Linked DNA regions of Homo sapiens: region 2 is linked to region 1. The links come from fine-mapping of genetic effects on gene expression. A gene starts in region 1. The other region holds a variant in brackets. All regions are shown on one strand. Distances are between the middles of the regions. Region 1 holds the start of FRMD4A-AS2 (FRMD4A antisense RNA 2). Region 2 overlaps FRMD4A (FERM domain containing 4A).

The links. PIP is the estimated chance that this variant, and not a neighbour inherited with it, causes the effect.
Region 2: its variant is fine-mapped to the expression of FRMD4A-AS2 in lymphoblastoid cells (GTEx, PIP 0.99).

The regions. Positions count from the first base shown.
Region 1 is chr10:13,989,859-13,994,249 of GRCh38, reverse strand. It overlaps FRMD4A-AS2 (FRMD4A antisense RNA 2), which reads right to left and starts at 2,670. Exons shown (of 3, transcript NR_199003.1): 1 at 2,258-2,670. All of the region lies in intron 2 of FRMD4A (FERM domain containing 4A), which reads left to right.
Region 2 is chr10:13,914,763-13,919,153 of GRCh38, reverse strand. All of the region lies in intron 2 of FRMD4A (FERM domain containing 4A), which reads left to right. Among named protein-coding and RNA genes, the nearest start is that of FRMD4A-AS2, 75 kb to the left of the region's middle. The variant C/T (reference allele first, on the strand shown) is at 2,190.

The DNA of each region.
Region 1 (4,391 bases):
CAATATCACACCACTGCACTCCAGCCTGGTGACAGAATGAGACTGTCTCAAAAAAAAAAAAAAAAAAAAAAAAATTAGCTGGGCGTGGTGGCACACTCCTGTCATCCCAGCTACTCGGGAGGCTGAGACAGCAGAATCGCTGAACCCGGGAGGTGAAGGTTGCAGTGAGCCAAGATCGCATCACTGCACTCCAGCCTGGGCAACGAAGCAAGGCTCCATCTCAAAAAAAAAAAAAAGGACTGTCCCACCCTAAATATCTACATATTCTCCCCTGCCCCAGGCTTGATTTTCATAAAAAGGAAACATCTTGCTACAAAAAAAACTAATCTTAAAATAGATCCTCAGGCCCTCCAGCTGCAGCATAATCCTAGTGCTAAATCAGAATATATATTTTTTTAAAAAAAAAAAACCTATTCTGACAGGTCAAATGCAAATTTTAAAATATATTTGAATACATTGAATACACGTCCTCCAGCTAGAGGAAACAGGAAGATGACATCCTCTTTGCTGAGAACATGGTTTTATTACCTAGCAATAGGACAACAACTTCAGAAGCAACTGAACCTCTGGTCTAATTATTGCCTGATAGAACAACTTATTAATATCATCAGCAACATTTTTTTGTTTTGGGAAGATATTCTCCATTGATGGTGTTAAAACAGAACAAATCAAGCAATTTCAGCCAATAGAACAATCACCCTACCACCTAGAGGTATATTTTGCTAACTCAAATTTGCAGACCAGCAGTGTGTGGTCCTACTTAAAACTAGAGATTGCACAAGAGCCAAACAGAGGTTCTTTTATGATCAAGGTGGCTGACTGGTAACAGCTGGACTAAAACCTTTCAGTTCTAAATCATCTCTTTCATGCTAGATGGAGTGGAATTCTGGGGTCCCAGCCAAGTCCTTGAGCAAGAACTTGAATGGATTCACAGCTCCTTTTCTGATGGAAACGTTGGCTAAACCCTGAGGAACTCTGGATCTCACCACGATGTCAAATAGAATGATGTCCCTGCTGGGGGAGGAGGCAAGTCAGGCTTCTCCATTGTCCCTTCTAAACAGCAGCTCACACTTGTCACATCCACAGCAGAGATGCAACTCTTCAGTTTTAAACTCAGGATGTCCTCACTGTCTCTTGCCGGATAAGGCAACTTTGAATTCACTACCTTCTAGCACTTAGCCCAAAGTTTTGTAGGGACATAGGACACGCAAGAGAAGCAGATCAATGGATATGTTGGCTAGTCATTACTTTAATCTCTTTACACTAAATCCTTTTTTTTTTTTTTTTTTTTTTTTTTGAGACAGAGTCTCACTCTATTGCCCAGGCTGGAGTGCAATGGCACAATCTTGGCACACTGCAACCTCTGCCACCGGGGGTCAAGCGATCCTCCTGCCTCAGCCTCCCAAGTAGCTGGGATTACAGGCATGCGCCACCATGCCTGGCTAATTTTTGTATTTTTAGTAGAGACAGGGTTTCACCATTTGGTCAAGCTGGTCTTGAACTCCTGACCTCAGGTGATCCGCGTGTCTTGGCCTCCCAAAGTGCTGGGATTACAGGTGCGAGCCACCATGCCTGGCCTACACTAGATCTTTATTAAATTAAATAATCAAATATCAACATAGTTATGCTGTATTTTCTCAACTCCCTGCTGAAATTATTTTACAAAGTTAAGATTTAATTCCTCTCTATTGAGGGCTGATGTTTAGTGTCATTTTGTTTTGAATGAGCAGCAACCTATTCTTGGCCTGGACTGGGGCTGGCCATGTGACCCGAGACTTAGGCAGGACATGGAGGTGGGTGGGCAGGACCCAAGGCCAGGCATGGGAGTTTGCTGGGGTCAGTGAGCCTGCAAGCCAACCCACAGACAGGCTAAAGACTCATGAATCCGGTTAGATGTGTCAAATATAGCTGGAGAATCAAGAAACAGGTGGAGACCAGAGAAATCAGAGGAGAAGAAACCAATTTAAAGCAAAGGTAGAAGCAAGTGTTTGTAGAAACCCCTTGAACCACTGGCATAGCTCCAGGCATGTCTAGGCATAGCCTGGGCTATAGGCAGAGATGAGGTGGTTAGGATGGTATCTTAGTATCATCTTGCTGAGAAAGCCAGCAGAAGAAACATCTATAAGCACGCTTCTGAGGCTTTTTCAAAATGACCATTGAAGATCTTGTTCCTTATGTTATTCAGTGCTTTTTATATATTCCACTCCGTTAATTCCTTTTAGAAGATAATAAGAAGTATGTGATTCAATGTACTTACCTTTTTACCTTTGCTGCCAGGAAACTCAAGCTAAAGTTGAGGCACAACCTCAGTAACTTGCTCATTCTGGATGTCTTTTCATACTTTTAACTTATTGTTTTCTTCTTTTTTTCTATTTTAGATTACCCTTAATTTTCTAGTTTACCCTCATATTCCATGTAAATATGTGCACATATTTTGTGCCTTTGCCAAGCAGCATGGAATCCTATAACCTTCTCTTCTGTGTGTGTTACTTTCTGTAAGGGAAACCAACACAATGGAAACGTAGCCCATTGAGAGTAAAAAATAGAACAAAGTATGCTACTTCCCTTCTCTTGGCAGAACGCATTGTCCCAACAGGTGTATCAAAAATGCTTCAAGGTAAGCCAAGACATGGGAACATTGTGCTCTGAGCAAGGTGGTTCTTTTTTCCCAGAAGGGAATGAATTCATTTGGAATGTTAGGCCCTGACAGAACAGAGCCACTCCATTCCACTCCATTGTGTCCTGGGAGTACACAGGGACTTGGTGCAGCCCCTAGAGGCAGTGGCAGTTTACAGGCATTCCTGGGAAGAACAGAGGGGGTCCCGTTGGAGGAAAGCAGGTGCACACTGTCCTGAATCTCCGCGCCTGATGCCCACCTTCATACAAGCTGCAGCTATGCCTGGGGGATGACAGTTCTGCAGAGTCCAAACTCACAAGGATAAGGGCTGGAAAAGAGGCTTTGCTGGTTTTCTGTTCCCACCAGGATGTTGGAAGCCTCCTTTTTGTCCTTTTCACTCTACGCTTCTTTTTTCTTTTCCTTTCTAAATGTTGCTGTCAGTGTACTCAGCTGAATGCTATCAGATACACAAATAACAATAGCTTCCTGGGAACGATTTGCTGCTGTGGGTCATGGGCCAGTGCCAAGAAGCCCAGGCACGCCAAGCACAGTGTTTTAGGAAAACCGCGGCTTTCAGAGAGCAGCTTCAGGATAATTGTTCAATTCCATTAGGGATTCTGGCTCCGAATGCACCTCGGAACCTGGCCCCAGTGTCTCCTCCAGGGGAACTTAGAGGTCCCCCACTCCATACCTTGGCTGGCTTTCTTTTTGATTTGTTTAATTTTCAAGAACCATCATTACTGGAATCTCGTATCTGATTGCGGTGTTCATGGAAAGAAAAATGGGAACAAGGGCTGAGAGACAGTGAGGCTTCCAGGGTGATCAGGTTGACTCGCAGAGGGAGAAATAACAGATTCCCAAATGCGGATTCTGGCACTTACACGTTTCTGAGTTTCCGATCTGGAGATCGGAGAGGTCACCGTCCTAGGGCTTGTCAGCCTCGCCAGCCTGCTGGGGCTCCCATTGTTCTGCTCAGAGTCCGGGAAGCAGATCCTGCTCCCTGATGACAGCTTCAGGCCGAGATGTTCCTGCAATGGAAGGTTTCCCGGGCAGGCTTTGCTTCCATCCTGGAGAGAGTTAACCAGGTCAGCCAGGGTCAAGGAGCAGATATCAAGTTACATATTTTCCTCCCTCATTTCCTAGCACACTCCCAGACATGCTCCACAAGGAAGGCCAGGAAGGAAGCATACCCGCCCAACAGACAAGACAGGCCAGGACCCTGGAAAGAAGAGGAAGGCACGTCTCTGGGCCTTCTCAGTCCTTACTTCCTCCTCCCTCCTTGTCCCACATTCCCCTCTGGATGGGTCTCACTCTCCAAGAAAATGGCCAGGAGCAAATCCAGGCAGAGAGGGAAGTTACTGAGACCCAGAAGCACAGCCAAGAATAGAAAGTACCTTTAATGAGCTCTTTCTATGTGCTTAATCTATGCAGCTGTTTTCTCCTCTGATCCTCAGAGCAGCCCTTTGAGGTTGGCTCTTATTCCTAACCCCACTTTCTAGAATAGGAAAACAGAGAATAGAGAGAGATTAAGTCATTTGTCCAGGGTTACGCAGCCAGCAGTGGCAGATCCAGGGTTTGAACCCAGGTAGTCTGACTTCAGAAAACTCTCCAGAGCGAATCTAAATGGGGGTCTAACCTAGAGTGAGACCCTTGGAATCCAAGCTGCTGAGAAAAGTGTCCCTTTAGAAAGGAACTCTAGGTCTGGTTGCCAGATTCAGCAAATGAAAATACAGGATGCCCAGTTACATCAAATTTCAATAAACAATGAATCATT
Region 2 (4,391 bases), 75 kb after region 1:
TGTACTTATTCATGCCCTCTCTGAAACCCACATCTCCAGTAATTACAATGAGTTTAGAAACAAGTGTGGAAGAAATTGGACCATACGATACCTTCCCCTAGGCATCTAACTAGATGTCACTTTGGAAATTAAGATGAGCTTCCTAATTCTAGAAAGAAGCCACCAGACCACAGATGCCTGTAAATCAGCTGTGAAGACATCAGATAGAATCATTTGGGCATAAATAGGAAATTAGGGGGGCATTTGTCATTTAAATATGTATTTGAAAGCTTTTTTTTTTTTTCTTACAAAAAACCATTTTGCTTTGTTTTATAACAGTATTGACTGGCGGGGCATGATGGCTCATGCCTGTAATCCCAGCATTTTGGGAGGCCGAGGCAGGCGGATCACTGTGGTCAGGAGTTCGAGACCAGCCTGACCAACATGGCAAAACCCCATCTCTACTAAAAATATAAAAATTAGCCAGGTGTGGTGGTGCACACCTGTAATCCCAGCTACTCAGGAGGCTGAGGCAGGAGAATCACTTGAATCCGGAAGGCAGAGGTTGCAGTGAGCCGAGATCACACCACTGCACTCCAGCCTGGGCGACAGAGTGAGACTCTCTCTCAAAAAAAAGAAAATTGTATTGACTGATATTCGTAACAGACATGTAGCAGAGCCTAGAGCTTTGCACATAGTACTTGACTGAAAATTAGTTAAGGGAATGAATAAATAAATAAATAAATAAATGAACCACTCTAACATCCTGCTTTGAAAGTTCAAGTTTCTAAAATTCTACGTGACATTTTTACTGCTTGTTCATAATATCAGAGCTGGGGGCTAAGATGGGGGTCATTTAGACTGGAGACGTCATTTAGCATTCATTAATTCAAAAATGGTGTATTGAGCCTAGTATGTTCCAGGCACTGTTCAAGGCTCTGGAGATACAACAGAGAACTAAACAGACCAAAGCCAGGCCTGCAAGAAACCCACATTCTAATACAGGGAAACAGACAATGGACAAATAAATAAACATGCAATATAGGAAGTAATGAAAACAAAGGAGAAGAATAAATCTCAGTGCTGGGGAAGAGAAAGCAGTTTTAGGTGGAGTGTCTCCTTTTCAACAGCAGGTCAGCTGAATTCTCCGCACTGGGAAATGCCTGTTGACTAAGGTAATAGTGATCACTTTTTGTAGAGTGATTTACAGTTGACAGTGCGCTTGCCCACACCACATCCTCTGAACTTTCCTGCAGCTCTTTGAGATCCTAATACTCCCCGTGCTATCAGCAACAAAACTGAGGAGCAGAAACTGATCAAAGGGCTCACCCAAGGCCATGCACCTTGTGAGTGCCAGTGCCCAACTGTGGCTCAGATTTCCTGTCCCCTTTGCCGGGTGTTGCAAAGAGAGGGACCTTCGGTGCCAGCCCTGCCAACTGGGGAATGAGAAAGGGTGAGCTGTTGGGTTTGTGTCCTGCTTGGTTACTCTTTTCTGAAGTTTGATATTTACAGTCCTTGATTTGTTTGTTTACCCCCTAGAGAGAATGAAAGTACAGTGTGTGTATATTATTAAATAAAATCTGTGGGCCGGGCATGGTGACTCACACCTGTAATCCCAGCACTTTGGGAGGCCAAGGCAGGTGGATTGCTTGAGGCCAGGAGTTCAAGACCAGCCTGGCCAACATGGTGAAATCCCATCTCTACTGAAAATATAAAAATTAACTGGGCATGGTGGTGCATGACCATAATCCCAGTTACTCAGGAGGGTGAGGCAGGAGAATCACGTGAACCCAGGAGGTGGAGGTTGCAGTTTGCAGTGAGCCAAGATTGCGCCACTGTACTCCAGACTGGGCGACAAAGCGAGTCTCCATCTCAAAAAAAAAAAAAAAATCTGTGATGGATATTAAGATAGAACCAGATAGAAGAATTGGGCAGAATTAAAGAATCTCCCAACAATATTAATATCCGCATGCTTATCCCTCCTGTGTTTGTCAATCCGAATCACACCCTAGCTAGGAGCTGCATAATTTGTCACCTGACTTGGTATTCATCACACTAAAGCCACTTCTTGGTGATGAGAATCTTTATCAGGAAGTATGTCATCCCTGCTATATTGAAACTTTTTTAAAACACTGTTTTGAGAGCCAAAACTTCGGTGAGCACACAGAGACAATTCTTTTCCTACTTAGAACAATCCAAGTATAAAACCT[C/T]AAAGCAGATTTCTCTCACACAAAGCTTTCGTTTTAAATGTGCTCGGCCACTGTTTATTTCAAAGCCATGTGAGATTATCTTTTTCTTCTGTTTCTTTCTTTTTTGGGGGGAAATGAGTAGAATGTTTTTCTTCTTCTCCTAAAAACAAGCAAACAAATACAAAAGAAATAATCAACACATATTTACTGAAAATATGGTATGGTTTTAGTGAGGTGCTGACGTCAGCATGATCGGCATGAGACACTAGAGAAAAATGTAGATTTGAATTTACAGAGAGATTTGAATTCTACATTGTACATTGAATCTACAAACAGAGATTTGAATTCTAGCTCTACCACACACTGGGGAACCTCAGGCAAGTTACTGAGCCTTGGAGCCTCAGGTTCCTCTTCTGTAAAATGGGTATAACACCTGCTCTGAACTGTCATTATGGGACTAGGTGAAATAGAGACTGTTCAACATCTGGCATATGTTAGTCAATAAATGGCACTATTACTACACACTAGTTGGGCCTTTGCTCAAGGGCAATAAAGACCTTGACCTGGGCTGGGATCCCCAAAATCCAGAAGGGGAATGGGCAGGGCTGGGCCTTAAGAGTAGATGTAGAAGCAAAGGAAAAGTGAGATCCAGGATCCTCGGAGTGTGAGGACCAGCCATAGACCCAAGGAAGAAGATGGGAGGCAAAGCCAAAGTGAACAATCTACAGCGGTGACCAGGCAGATGATGGAGCTGAGCGGGGCTCCCTGAGACCCTTCCCTGGTGGGGAAGAGAGAATGAAACCTAAAGACTTCACAGCCAGAGCCACGGTCAGGCAGCCACAGGGTGTAGCAGGGCTCATAGATGAGATACTGGCTTCCATCTTGAGAGATTTTGCAGTTCCAGTTGACCTGCCGTCAGTGCCATTGCAGATCATTGCGACTTCTCCAAGTCTGTGCCTTCAGCAGTGGTGAATTCAGACAATGTTGTGTTTGTTCTCTGAATACAAATTACTAGTGTTGGGAAACCACAGTGCCTGAGCCAACCCCCCAACTGGAGCTCTTTGTTCGCCGTGCCTGGTCCCTGACTCCAAGAGCCAGAAGGGACCTCAGAGGTCAGGAGGCCAACCGCCCACAGGGAGCAGGGATTCCCTCTGCAGCGGGAGCACAGGTGGTGCCCAGCCTCTGCAGGAACACTCCAGGGAGAGGACACTCACCCACCGCTTCCAGAAAGCCACCTCCTTGGGTAGCAGCTCTGAGTGGCACAAAGCCCTTTGTGCAGTCACCACAAAATCTGCCCACTTTTTTTTTTTTTTTTTGAGATAGAGTCACTCTGTCGCCCAGTCTGGAGTGCAGTGGCGTGATCTCGGCTCACTGCAAGCTCCGCCTCCCAGGTTCATGCTATTCTCCTGCCTCAGCCTCCCGAGTAGCTGGGACTACAGGCACCCACCACCATGCCCGGCTAATTTTTTGTATTTTTAGTAGAGACGGGGTTTCACCGTGTTAGCCAGGATGGTCTCGATCTCCTGACCTTGTGATCCGCCCGCCTCAGCCTCCCAAAGTGCTGGGATTACAGGCGTGAGCCACCGAGCCCAGCCTCACTTTTAAGCCCCGCTTCCTGACCCTTTCCACTTAGTTGGTCCTCCTTCCATGCACCAGCACTTAACACATCTAATCTCGAAGAAAACCGTGCTCCAGTTCGCTAGCCCCCGCCTTCCCACTGCTAGAGCTATTCTTTTGGGGACTAGACATCACCATTCCCTTCAGTCATTGAAGCTGGACCTGAACACTTCCTCATCCTAAATGCTCTCGCCTGGATTTGATGAAATTTGCAAACATCTGTCTTAAAATGTAGCCATGAAACAGAACACAGTACTCCCTATAATGTTGTTAATATGTCGGTCCCATTAACTCCCAGTGAGAACACTGTGGTTTGTTGTGGTTTGCTGTTGTTGCTGTTGTTATTGTTGTTTTCGAGGCCAGGTCCCACTCTGTTGCCCAGGCTGGAGTGCAGTGGTGCATTCCTAGCTCACTGCAGCCTCCAACTCATGGGCTCACGCAATACTCCTGCCTCAGCCTCGTGAGTAGCTGTGATTACAGGCACACGCTGCCATGCGCAAATTTTTTTTATTTTTTGTAGAGATGGGGTCTCACTCTGTTGCCCAGTCTTGTGGTTTGTTTCATATACTAATATTGCATGAGCTTTGGGGTCCACCACATCACACT